2 separate regions of the Homo sapiens genome follow, and region 1 is linked to region 2. The links come from fine-mapping of genetic effects on gene expression. Tissue or cell type: subcutaneous fat. Region 2 holds a variant in brackets; the other region holds the start of a gene. All regions are shown on one strand. Distances are between the middles of the regions.

Region 1 (5,735 bases), 84 kb after region 2:
ATGGAAGTTACAAAGAGGCGCCCAGGCTCACATAACTAATAAGTGGAAGAGCAAGGATTTAAACACCAGCCCGTCTGGCTTCAAAAACTTGGGCCTCTTATGTAATGTCACAGTAGTCAGCTGTCCAGGACTCAGGTTATGACTGTGTCCTCCACTGCTACCTTTTATTCCACCCTTTACTCTGCCACAGGGCAAGGATCTTCAGTTTCCCCATCCAGGTTTCTGGGCTTTCCGAGAGATCTAGATTCTAGATTCTAGAAGTCCGCCTCCTCCTCTCACTCCCAGGATCCAGCTGGGTGACATTCTCAGGACCTGAGGATCAAGTAAGTTCAGAGTCCCCATTGCTTCTCAGCTCCATGCAGAGTGGATTCTGCTCCAGCCTGCTCACCCCTCCCCAAAGGCACTGCTTACCTCATCCTCAGAGTCCTCCAGACCGGGTTTGCCTCTAGTGCCTAAGATATACTTACGGAGGCTTAGTTGGCTTCAGGAGCCCCAGATCCTGAGCTGCTGGCAATTCCCTACACCAGGCTCTCAAACATCTAGGCTTGCTCTCTGCACCTTCTCCACTATATTCAGACCAAGTCTCTGGGAGTGATCAAGAGAGACGAGGGGTACTGTATAGAAAGGGGTAGAGTCTGTATGGGAAATGTATTGGCTGGTATCCTTAAGGAGGCATGAACTGTCTCCTGGCCATCCCCTCTTACATGTATAATAGGCATCTCAAAATTTACAGGCTGAAAAGTGAACTCCCAATCTTTCCCCTAAACCCACTCCTGTCTCTGTCAACAGTAACTCTATTCTTCCAGTTGCTCAGGCCGGACATTTTGGAGTAATTTTTGACTCTTCTTTCTCTTATACCCCACATCAGTAAATCTTGCTGTCCCTACTTAAAAAAGTCTATCCAGAATTTGACCACTTCTCATCATCTCCACCACTGTGATCCAAGCTACCATCATCTCTATCAGCAATAGCCTCTTGACTGGTCTTCCCCCTGTACCTCCAGCCCTGCAGTCTATTCTCAATATAGAGCTGGCCAGTGAGCCTTCTAAAATGTAAGTCAGATGACACCTCTCTTCTCTAAACCCTAAGTGCCTTCCCGTTCACCAAAGAGTCCTTTACAATGGCCTCCAAGGACCTTCATGATCTGGTCCCTGCCAAACTCTCTGACCTCATTTTTTACTTTTCCCCTTCTCACAACACCTGGCCTTTATTCAAAAGTCACCCTTAATATTTATTTATTTACTTATAGACAGGGTCTTGCTTTGTCATTCAGGCTGGAGTGCAGAGGTCTGACCATAGTTCACTGCAACCTCAAACTGCTGGGCTCAAGTGATCCTCCTATCTCCGACTCCCAAAGCACTGGGATTACAGGTGTGAGCCACTGTGCCTGGTTTCATTCCTAATATTTAAAACAACAACCCTCTCTATTACCCTTTTCCTTCCCTCTTTATTACCCTTTTCCTTCCCTCTTTAATTTTTCTCCATAATGATGATCACAATCTACATATTTTACTTATTAATTTTATTATCCCCCAGTAGTATGTAAGCACCATTAGGGTGGGAGTTTTTATCTATTTTGTCCACTCCTAAGGAACTACCAGTAACTAGAACTGGACCAGGCAAAAGTAGGCTCTCAGTAAATATTCGTGGTTTTAAAAAAATTATTTATATTTGAGACAGGGTCTCACTTTGTCACCCAGATTGGAGTGCAGTGGCGCGATCACAGCTCACTGCAGCCTCAACATCCCAGGTTCAAGCACTCCTCCTGCCTCAGCCCCCCATGTAGCTGGGACATCAGGTGCATGCCACCACGCCCGACTAATTTTTTGTAGAGACAGGGTTTTGCCACGTTGTCCAGGCTTGTCTTGAACTCCTGAGCTCCAGCGATCTGCCTGCCTCTGTCTGCCATAAATATTTGTTGATTCTTTCCTGGATCATAGCCAGTGGCTTAGAGAGGCAACTTAAGCATAGCAATTAAGTTATGGATGCTAGAGCCTGATCCAAAGGCAGGCCTGTCTTGGTTCAAATCTTGACTCTACCACTAACTAGCAAGACACCTAAACTTTCTGTGCCTTCATTTTTTCATCAGCAAAGCAGAGACAATAATAGTATCTAGCTCATAGAGAGCCTATGGGGTCATTAATAAGTATAAAGCACTTAGAAAAATGCCTGTCACATAGTAAGTGCTATATAAGCATTCTTTGTAATTATATGCATATGAGATTTATATTAAATATCAGTAGTTTAGATTTTCTAAAATCTTTCAATGTGTTGTCTTGCACTTGCCCATGTGAAAATTCGTTTCCCATGTTTCTGCTCACTTACACAGGCTTGTATGATCCCCCTGTAATCTATCTCCAGGGACCTGGCTCTTCATCAGTAAACTTGGATGTTTCCTCGTGTTCTCCCTCCTGCAGTCATTTCAAAGCTGTTAAATAGTAATCTCGCTGGGCCCCAGTTTCCCAATCTGTACAATGAGTGGGTTGGACTAGGTCATCGTAAAGGGCCTTTCTAACTCTTTTAATCTCCCAGGTGGGAGGAGGGACAGGCCCCACCTCCAACTCCACCTCCTTGGATATGCCCTCTGGCTGCCAAGGGGAAGGGTGACAGAGTCAGCTGAGCTCAGCTTCAAGGGGACCAGGTAGGAGATGTGCCAACGTTCTTGGGCAAGGGTGGCAATGGGGCTCCTGGGCTGTAGGCAGGCAGTGGGGAAGGTGTCATAGGTAAATGTCATCTGGAGACACTGTGACCAGGGCACTAGGAGAGGCGAAGGCACTGTGGGGAGAGACACTCCTCTTCCAGGGATATAGCTGTGATGACGAGTCAGAAGACACTTTGGGTCTGGGTATCTTCCCACTTTGGATAGTGCTGGGAGGCCTCCACCCTCTTCAGCCAGCCAGGCTCTTAGGGACAGAGTGAGCTGCAGAGTGAGTACAACCCAAATACACGGGCTGCCTGCCTGAGCCCCAGCACTGCCTGCTGCCCACCACTTCCCAAGCTGGACCAAGGGAGCTTGGGTAGGGGCCAGGCTAGCCTGAGTGCACCCAGATGCGCTTCTGTCAGCTCTCCCTAGTGCTTCAACCACTGCTCTCCCTGCTCTACTTTTTTTGCTCCAGCTCAGGGATGGGGGTGGGCAGGGAAATCCTGCCACCCTCACTTCTCCCCTTCCCATCTCCAGGGGGGCCATGGCCAGTACAGAGTCCTCCCTGTTGAGATCCCTAGGCCTCAGCCCAGGTCCTGGCAGCAGTGAGGTGGAGCTGGACTGTTGGTTTGATGAGGATTTCAAGTTCATCCTGCTGCCTGTGAGCTATGCAGTTGTCTTTGTGCTGGGCTTGGGCCTTAACGCCCCAACCCTATGGCTCTTCATCTTCCGCCTCCGACCCTGGGATGCAACGGCCACCTACATGTTCCACCTGGCATTGTCAGACACCTTGTATGTGCTGTCGCTGCCCACCCTCATCTACTATTATGCAGCCCACAACCACTGGCCCTTTGGCACTGAGATCTGCAAGTTCGTCCGCTTTCTTTTCTATTGGAACCTCTACTGCAGTGTCCTTTTCCTCACCTGCATCAGCGTGCACCGCTACCTGGGCATCTGCCACCCACTTCGGGCACTACGCTGGGGCCGCCCTCGCCTCGCAGGCCTTCTCTGCCTGGCAGTTTGGTTGGTCGTAGCCGGCTGCCTCGTGCCCAACCTGTTCTTTGTCACAACCAGCAACAAAGGGACCACCGTCCTGTGCCATGACACCACTCGGCCTGAAGAGTTTGACCACTATGTGCACTTCAGCTCGGCGGTCATGGGGCTGCTCTTTGGCGTGCCCTGCCTGGTCACTCTTGTTTGCTATGGACTCATGGCTCGTCGCCTGTATCAGCCCTTGCCAGGCTCTGCACAGTCGTCTTCTCGCCTCCGCTCTCTCCGCACCATAGCTGTGGTGCTGACTGTCTTTGCTGTCTGCTTCGTGCCTTTCCACATCACCCGCACCATTTACTACCTGGCCAGGCTGTTGGAAGCTGACTGCCGAGTACTGAACATTGTCAACGTGGTCTATAAAGTGACTCGGCCCCTGGCCAGTGCCAACAGCTGCCTGGATCCTGTGCTCTACTTGCTCACTGGGGACAAATATCGACGTCAGCTCCGTCAGCTCTGTGGTGGTGGCAAGCCCCAGCCCCGCACGGCTGCCTCTTCCCTGGCACTAGTGTCCCTGCCTGAGGATAGCAGCTGCAGGTGGGCGGCCACCCCCCAGGACAGTAGCTGCTCTACTCCTAGGGCAGATAGATTGTAACACGGGAAGCCGGGAAGTGAGAGAAAAGGGGATGAGTGCAGGGCAGAGGTGAGGGAACCCAATAGTGATACCTGGTAAGGTGCTTCTTCCTCTTTTCCAGGCTCTGGAGAGAAGCCCTCACCCTGAGGGTTGCAGGGAGGCAGGGATATCATGGGTGACCTCATCTCTCATAACCCCTTCAGTTGCCGACTCTTTTTAGCCAATGCCAATCTTCTACTCCTTTCTCGTTGTTTCTGTTCCTTCCTGGGGCCATTGGTCCTACAATCTTCCTGAAAATCTTCCCCAGTCCTCTTTCCCTGTCCCATTTCCCCCACAGCCTCCTATAGCATGTGTTTCTCTACCCAGACCAGAGCATTCAGCTGAAGGGGTGGATCAGGCAGAGTCATCTCAGGATTGGCCTGACGTATCTGATGGTGATAACCAGAATCAGGAAGTGGAGGCAACTTCCATATCACAGATGCCGAGGATGTGCCATATGTAGCACCCACACTGACTTCCTGGTTCTCTCTCAAAGACAGCATAGTCTTGCTTACCAAGATGCTGGAATAGGGTGTGATCCCAGGGAGCCTGCATGCCAGGGTCCCCGCATGTAGCTGGGGGCCTGACACTGTTGAACTGGTGTGCAGCATGAATTAAAGTCCTGTGATAGGGTGGGGACCTTAGCTGATAACAGCCTTTGGGACAGGAATGGGACTGGACCTTCTTTATGATGTTTGCTGAGAACATGTATATGACAGCTCTCCTGTACTTAACAAAAGGACAAGTGGATGGCTCAGACTGAGGGGGTGGAGCTCTCACGTCTATGGCTGTAAGTTCTAGCATTGAGGAGTAGAGCAGATTTGTGCAGAGGAAGGTGGTGACAAGAATTGACGCCCAGAGCTAGTGTTTCACTGATCTCTCCACTTTCTCTAGGTCCTGCCCCAAATAAATGATAAATCTGTCACCAGCTCTTTCAGATCAGGCTTCAGGACTTTGAGGCCAGGGTGGAGCACTAGGACTGGGAAGGTTCTTTTTAAAGTTTCCCACCCATTCATTGCTTCTCTCTTCCAGTGCCATCTTAGCACTTACAGGCTTATTGGATCAAGTTGCAGAGGGGAGGGGGGTGCATTGGAAATTGAGAAGCTAACCCCTAAGCCTTGGGAAGTAAGAATTTCTTGGCAGGCATTCTTGAGAAGGGTGGGCTCACACTTACAGGCCTTCTCCCTCTGAAATCACCTTCCAGCCTGTTGGTCTCCTGAGTCAGACCCCAGCCTTGCCTTTCTTTTTTTCCCACCCTTGCTAACCTGTCTCTGATCTCTTACTTATCTAATGATACTAACTCTTATTGGCTTCTAAGCGTCTCTCTCTGTAGAGTAGGGCTGGGGCTGGACTGAAGGAAAAAAAAATGACTTCAGTTCCCCTGAATTTCCCTTTTTGTTTTTTGAAAGGCTCCCACTTTCTCCCTAGATATCC
Region 2 (5,000 bases):
ACTAGTCACTTAAAATAAAAATAGTTTTAATCCAGAATGAAGGGCACAAGCACTTACTTTTGAAACATTTTGCTTTCACTGTAGTGAGTCTTAATAAAAGCCATGGGATACATTGTTGTGTATTTCCAAAAAAATATATAGCTGGGAGGGTCTCCGAACAATAGATGTGGAGAACTCTGATTCAGGAGTCCAGCAGGACTCCTGGATAAAAGGGCTTACTCTGCCTAACTGTGACAGTGGATGGAAGCCAGGAACTTTATCAGTTTGTGGCAATCTTTAGCACCCTCCTACTGTGTGTGCCAAGTACATTTAAGTGGCAGACACAGCGATTCTACGGAGTTCCTCTGAGCCAGCCACCACTAGCAACTCCCTCTACAGGCACACCAGGCACCAGTCATATTGCCAGATTCTCACTGAGGATGCTTTATTTTATTAATTTGGTTCCACGGGTTTCCTTCATCTTTTCTATGTGACTCGAAGCCCCAGAAATGAGGTGGTATTAATCCTCTAAGATTGGTGTGATGGCCATGAACAATGGTGGGTACCCTGGGTCACTATTTCTGAGCTTGTAAGTTTTGGCCCCAGTGGGCTTCTGCAGCCTAGATTATCTTAATTCTGAGGCAGCTCACACAAGGTTTTCATGTATCAGATGTTTCAGTTGCATTTGAGTGGCATTATAATTGTGAAATTTAACCTTGTGATAGCCGTTGTCTAACAAGTACTCTATACTTCAGCCACATTGAAGTTCTTACCATTTTTTAAACTTTCATACCTCTTTGCTTTTATCTATATCTTTTCCTCTATATATAGTCTAGTCCCTTTTTAAAAAACCTTATTTATTTTATATAAAAGCTCTTAAATTTTTCCTTGTGGAGCAGGGCTAACTCGTAAGCAGTGTGCCCAGAGTTGGCCTGTCCCTTCCCTTTTGTCTGCATGGCAAACTCCTGTTCATTTTTAGGACCCAGTTTCTTCTATGATGCCTTCCTGAATTTTCTGGACTAACAGTTAATCATCCTTTGTTTTATGATCCCACTGCACTTTGCTTACATTGCTGATATAAAAGAAAGCACACGAGAGAGGATTCCCAATTTTCCTTGCCTTCAACCCTCGCCTCCTTTCCCCGTTATCCCTATTTTGCCACCTCTCCCACCTGTGAACCTTGACCAACTGAGAAACTACAAGGCTTGTAAGAACAACTCTCAAAATATAATAACAGTTATCCGGATAGGATTGCATCAGTATATTCCTGAGGAAGAGGTATAAAAAAATGAAACAATCTCCAACCAAAAGTTTCACATCAATTAACATTAAAAACTGTTACCTGAGCTAAACCACACGGACATACAACCCTTTCTTCTCTTTACTCTATAAAGCTCCAATCTTGCTTTACTTGGGAAGTTACCTGGAGTTCAAGTGTACCCTGAGTGCATCAGCTAAATAATGCTTCTTCTTCTTCTTTTTTTTTTTTTTTTGAGATGAAGTCTCGCTCTGTCATCCAGGCTGGAGTGCAGTGGCACAATCTCGGCTCACTGCAACCTCCATCTCCTGGGTTCAAGCAGTTCTCCTGCCTCAGCCTCCCAAGTACCTGGGACTACAGGTGCATGCCACTACACCTGGCTAATTTTTGTATTTTCAGTAGAAACAGGGTTTCACCATTTTGGCCAGGCTAGTTTTGAACTCCAGACCTCAGGTGATCCGCCCACCTTGGCCTCCCAAAGTGCTGGGATTACAGGCAAGAGCTACTGCGCCCAGATGAATAATGCTTTTAACCCCTATTTGAATCACTTAAATTCTTTCCTTTTGATAGTAATACAGCACTTAGTAAGATTACATAGCTAGGAAGTGGCAGAACTGGCTTCAAACCAGGGTCTGTGTGGCTCTAGAGCCCAGGCTCTCAATTACTGTACCCTGTTTGTTGGATAAATGAGCTGTCATCTTGGACTGCTCATGATAGCTTTACAGTACTCCTTATTCTAAAACACTGCCTAATAGTCTTTGGGGAGTTTACTCATTTAATTTCTTAGAGCTGGCCATCATAACAAGTCCTGACAATATTGCATGGCATTTTTTTAATATTCTCTTCAAGAATAAATCTATGTGTGGATAATTTTGTGACACACTATTGACAACTCTAGAAAACACTGGGCAAGACCAGGGACTACAGTCTCATGGTTCTGGTAAAATTAAAATCTCTGCCCAAGAGCTAGGAATTACCACCAGGCATCTGCATACACATCACTGTTTCAGAATAATAAACAACAGAGTGTAGACAGAACAAAACCAACCATTACCACTTAACATAGTATGTTATAGTACGATTTCAATGTTTTTTT[T/A]AAAAGCATATATGCCTAAGGACTAAGAGATGGAACACCAAAACAAAAATAGATTTTTAGGGATAGTGGGATTGTGAAAATTTTTCTTCTGGGAAAAACAACAAATAACCACCCCACCCCCAAAACACACCTGCCACTACTATAATGGTTCTAAAAATAAACAAAAATGGGAACTTATGGTAGAACAATCATTCAAACTTACTTATTATTGGTTATAAAAGAGGCTTATGGTATTCCCTGGTTGCCTTAAGCTATCTGTCAGAATTTAGCTTATTTAAAATTGGGGTATGGTACAAGTCCTCTTTTTAAGTTAGCCTACACTGTGAGGACAGCAAATCAATGACTGCTGCTCTTGCTACCTAGGCAATTTTGCACTGCTATGTTGTTGCTTCTGTTATTTGATTAGAATACTGAAATACTAATGTGCATTGTATATGTAACCTATGAGTGTTTTAACAAACTCAATATTCAGATCATATCAAATGATCCACGACCTCTGTCCAAAAGCGGCTCACAATCTAGTTGTTTCAGCAAAAGGCACAGAGCTAGAAAGGCTTGTATGTGTCAAGAGAAACAAATGAAAGTGATATGCCTATTTACACTGCCCCTACTTGGCTTACCGATAACTGGGTAATCAATTGCTGCAGGTTACAAATTATCTCTACATTTTCTTTCAATTCCTGGTCTTCCAAAGTCTCCACTAGCTTTTGAAGATCCAGTTTGCAGCTGAAAATTCAAACAAAAAGAACCCAAGGGTTATTCATATGACAAAGGCCAGAGGCTCCACGATTATATACTAAGATGCTATAGGTTGCTAACAAATATCTGGTGGGCAACTTACGCCGCATGCTGCCTGAGCTCTTCTAGCTTGGCGTTCATTTTTTCATTCGCTTGCTCTGTCTGCAACAAAGACCCAGGAGATCATCAGTGGCGGTGCCTGACAGCCTCACATAATTATGCTCTCCTACTCCTATGAATTAAAAGCTAGGTAGAGAGGCTGTCTCCTTTGCTGTAACAGAGGATTTAGTGGGCTTTGGTTATTCAGTGAAAAATGTGTTTTTTAAAAGAGTCATGGAAATTAGCCCTTCAGTCAACATGAGCTACTAAAAATAGCATCCGAGCAGCTAGGTTTTATGCTTGCCATGAAACTCAGACTATGGGGTGGAGTGTGAAGCCTTAATTCCATAGAGAACTTTGCAACTGAGGGGAAAAAGCAATATTTCCTGGCATGTTAGTCCCTGCTGTTTGCAAAACAAACAAACAAAAAAAACAAACAAAAAAAAGACAAAAAACAAACAAACAAAAAACCCCACTTACTTTAAACTGCCTCCTACACTACGCTGTTCCCTAGCCCCAGCATAAGGGCATTTAAAACATAAAAGGGCCTCACACTAAATTTGAGCTGAGATTTTTTTTTTAAGTTATACTATTTGATATGGTAGGCTAGTTTTAGCAAAAGACAGCAAGAAAAAGGGTACGGCACAAGAATGATGGTAGAGAAAGAAGAAACAGCAGAAGGCAGCTTACGTTTTGGGAAGGGTGATTGATATTTTCAGTTTTATTTCAATCACAGTATCTGTAACATGCTGGATACTATAACAGATCTGGAAAGAATCGTTTATATAGGACAAAAATGTTGTGCTTGTTATGAAGTTCTGACAGGATATCAAACAATAAGCCTATCAGGCAGACACTGTAACAACCTTATAAAGGTCGGATGAGTATGTGGATAGAATAAGAAGTAGTTTCTGTTACAACAGCCTCATTCACATACATGTGAAACACAGCTTCTAGAGTTACTTCAAAGCATAAATACAGCACTGGAGACAGAAAACTGTATATAAAAATCCCCTATATCCCATTTTCACCCTCCGTTAGTAATGGACAATACAATGGACGTAGGATTTAGCCCACTTGAAAGAAATCTTTAAGCAGCTTATCTTTCCTTGACTAGAGAGCACACTGATGCATGAAGGTGTATACATTACAGAGGTTCAATTATATTTTGGTGGAAACTTATTTTTGCTTCTGGCAACAGTCGTGCTATCAAAGATTGAGTTGTATTTAGACTAGTAGAAAAACCTTAGTGATAGAGTCAGCATGCACTGATCCAGGAGGTTACTGACAGACAAGCAGGTAGTAGGAGTCAGAACTCGTGTAATCAGTTATATAGTGATCCACTATTTGGAAATCAATCACATGGAAAATGAATTAAAATTAATTTCCAAGCTGTTGTATCTCACCATGGCAGCTGTTAGTATGGGATATGAAATGTGACAACATTAGGGGAAGAGAGATGGAAAATAACTAAAATCTTGGAGAAGGAATGGTTACTTGGTATTATGGATAAAGATTAGGCAGGATTTAAGGTGACAGAGGTACTTGGTTCTTTACTTTCTGGTATTTTTAAATGAATCTATTTTAAAATGGGATTTATGTAGATTCTTTGTGGTAGATACATAGGTGTTCACTGTACAATTCTTTTAACTTTTCTGTATGTTTGATTATAAGCCCACATATTTACCCCAGAGGGGCTCCCTGGAGGATATGGTAATACAAATACATTTCTTTCAATATAACCTGTCTCTCATAATGAGATACATGTTAAATATTCTGGAAACTAAAGCTAGTAAATGTTCAGATTGCTAGTAGTTTATTCTTGGGGGC

Which allele goes with the higher level. Positions count from the first base shown, and alleles are read on the strand shown. Sizes are in standard deviations (SD) of each study's normalised expression.
In carriers of allele A in region 2, the expression in subcutaneous fat of the gene that starts at base 2,606 in region 1 tends to be higher than with T alone (small effect, 0.35 SD a copy in GTEx).

Evidence for each region. PIP is the estimated chance that this variant, and not a neighbour inherited with it, causes the effect.
Region 1: it holds the start of P2RY4, and the variant in region 2 is the best candidate, but not a certain one, in a credible set for the expression of P2RY4 in subcutaneous fat (GTEx, PIP 0.62).

The regions. Positions count from the first base shown.
Region 1 is chrX:70,257,075-70,262,809 of GRCh38, reverse strand. It overlaps P2RY4 (pyrimidinergic receptor P2Y4), which reads left to right and starts at 2,606. Exons shown (of 1, transcript NM_002565.4): 1 at 2,606-4,644. The coding sequence starts at 3,186. The coding sequence ends at 4,283.
Region 2 is chrX:70,341,936-70,346,935 of GRCh38, reverse strand. KIF4A (kinesin family member 4A) reads right to left here. Exons shown (of 31, transcript NM_012310.5): 12 at 3,175-3,233; 13 at 2,954-3,059. Among named protein-coding and RNA genes, the nearest start is that of KIF4A, 54 kb to the right of the region's middle. The variant T/A (reference allele first, on the strand shown) is at 2,334.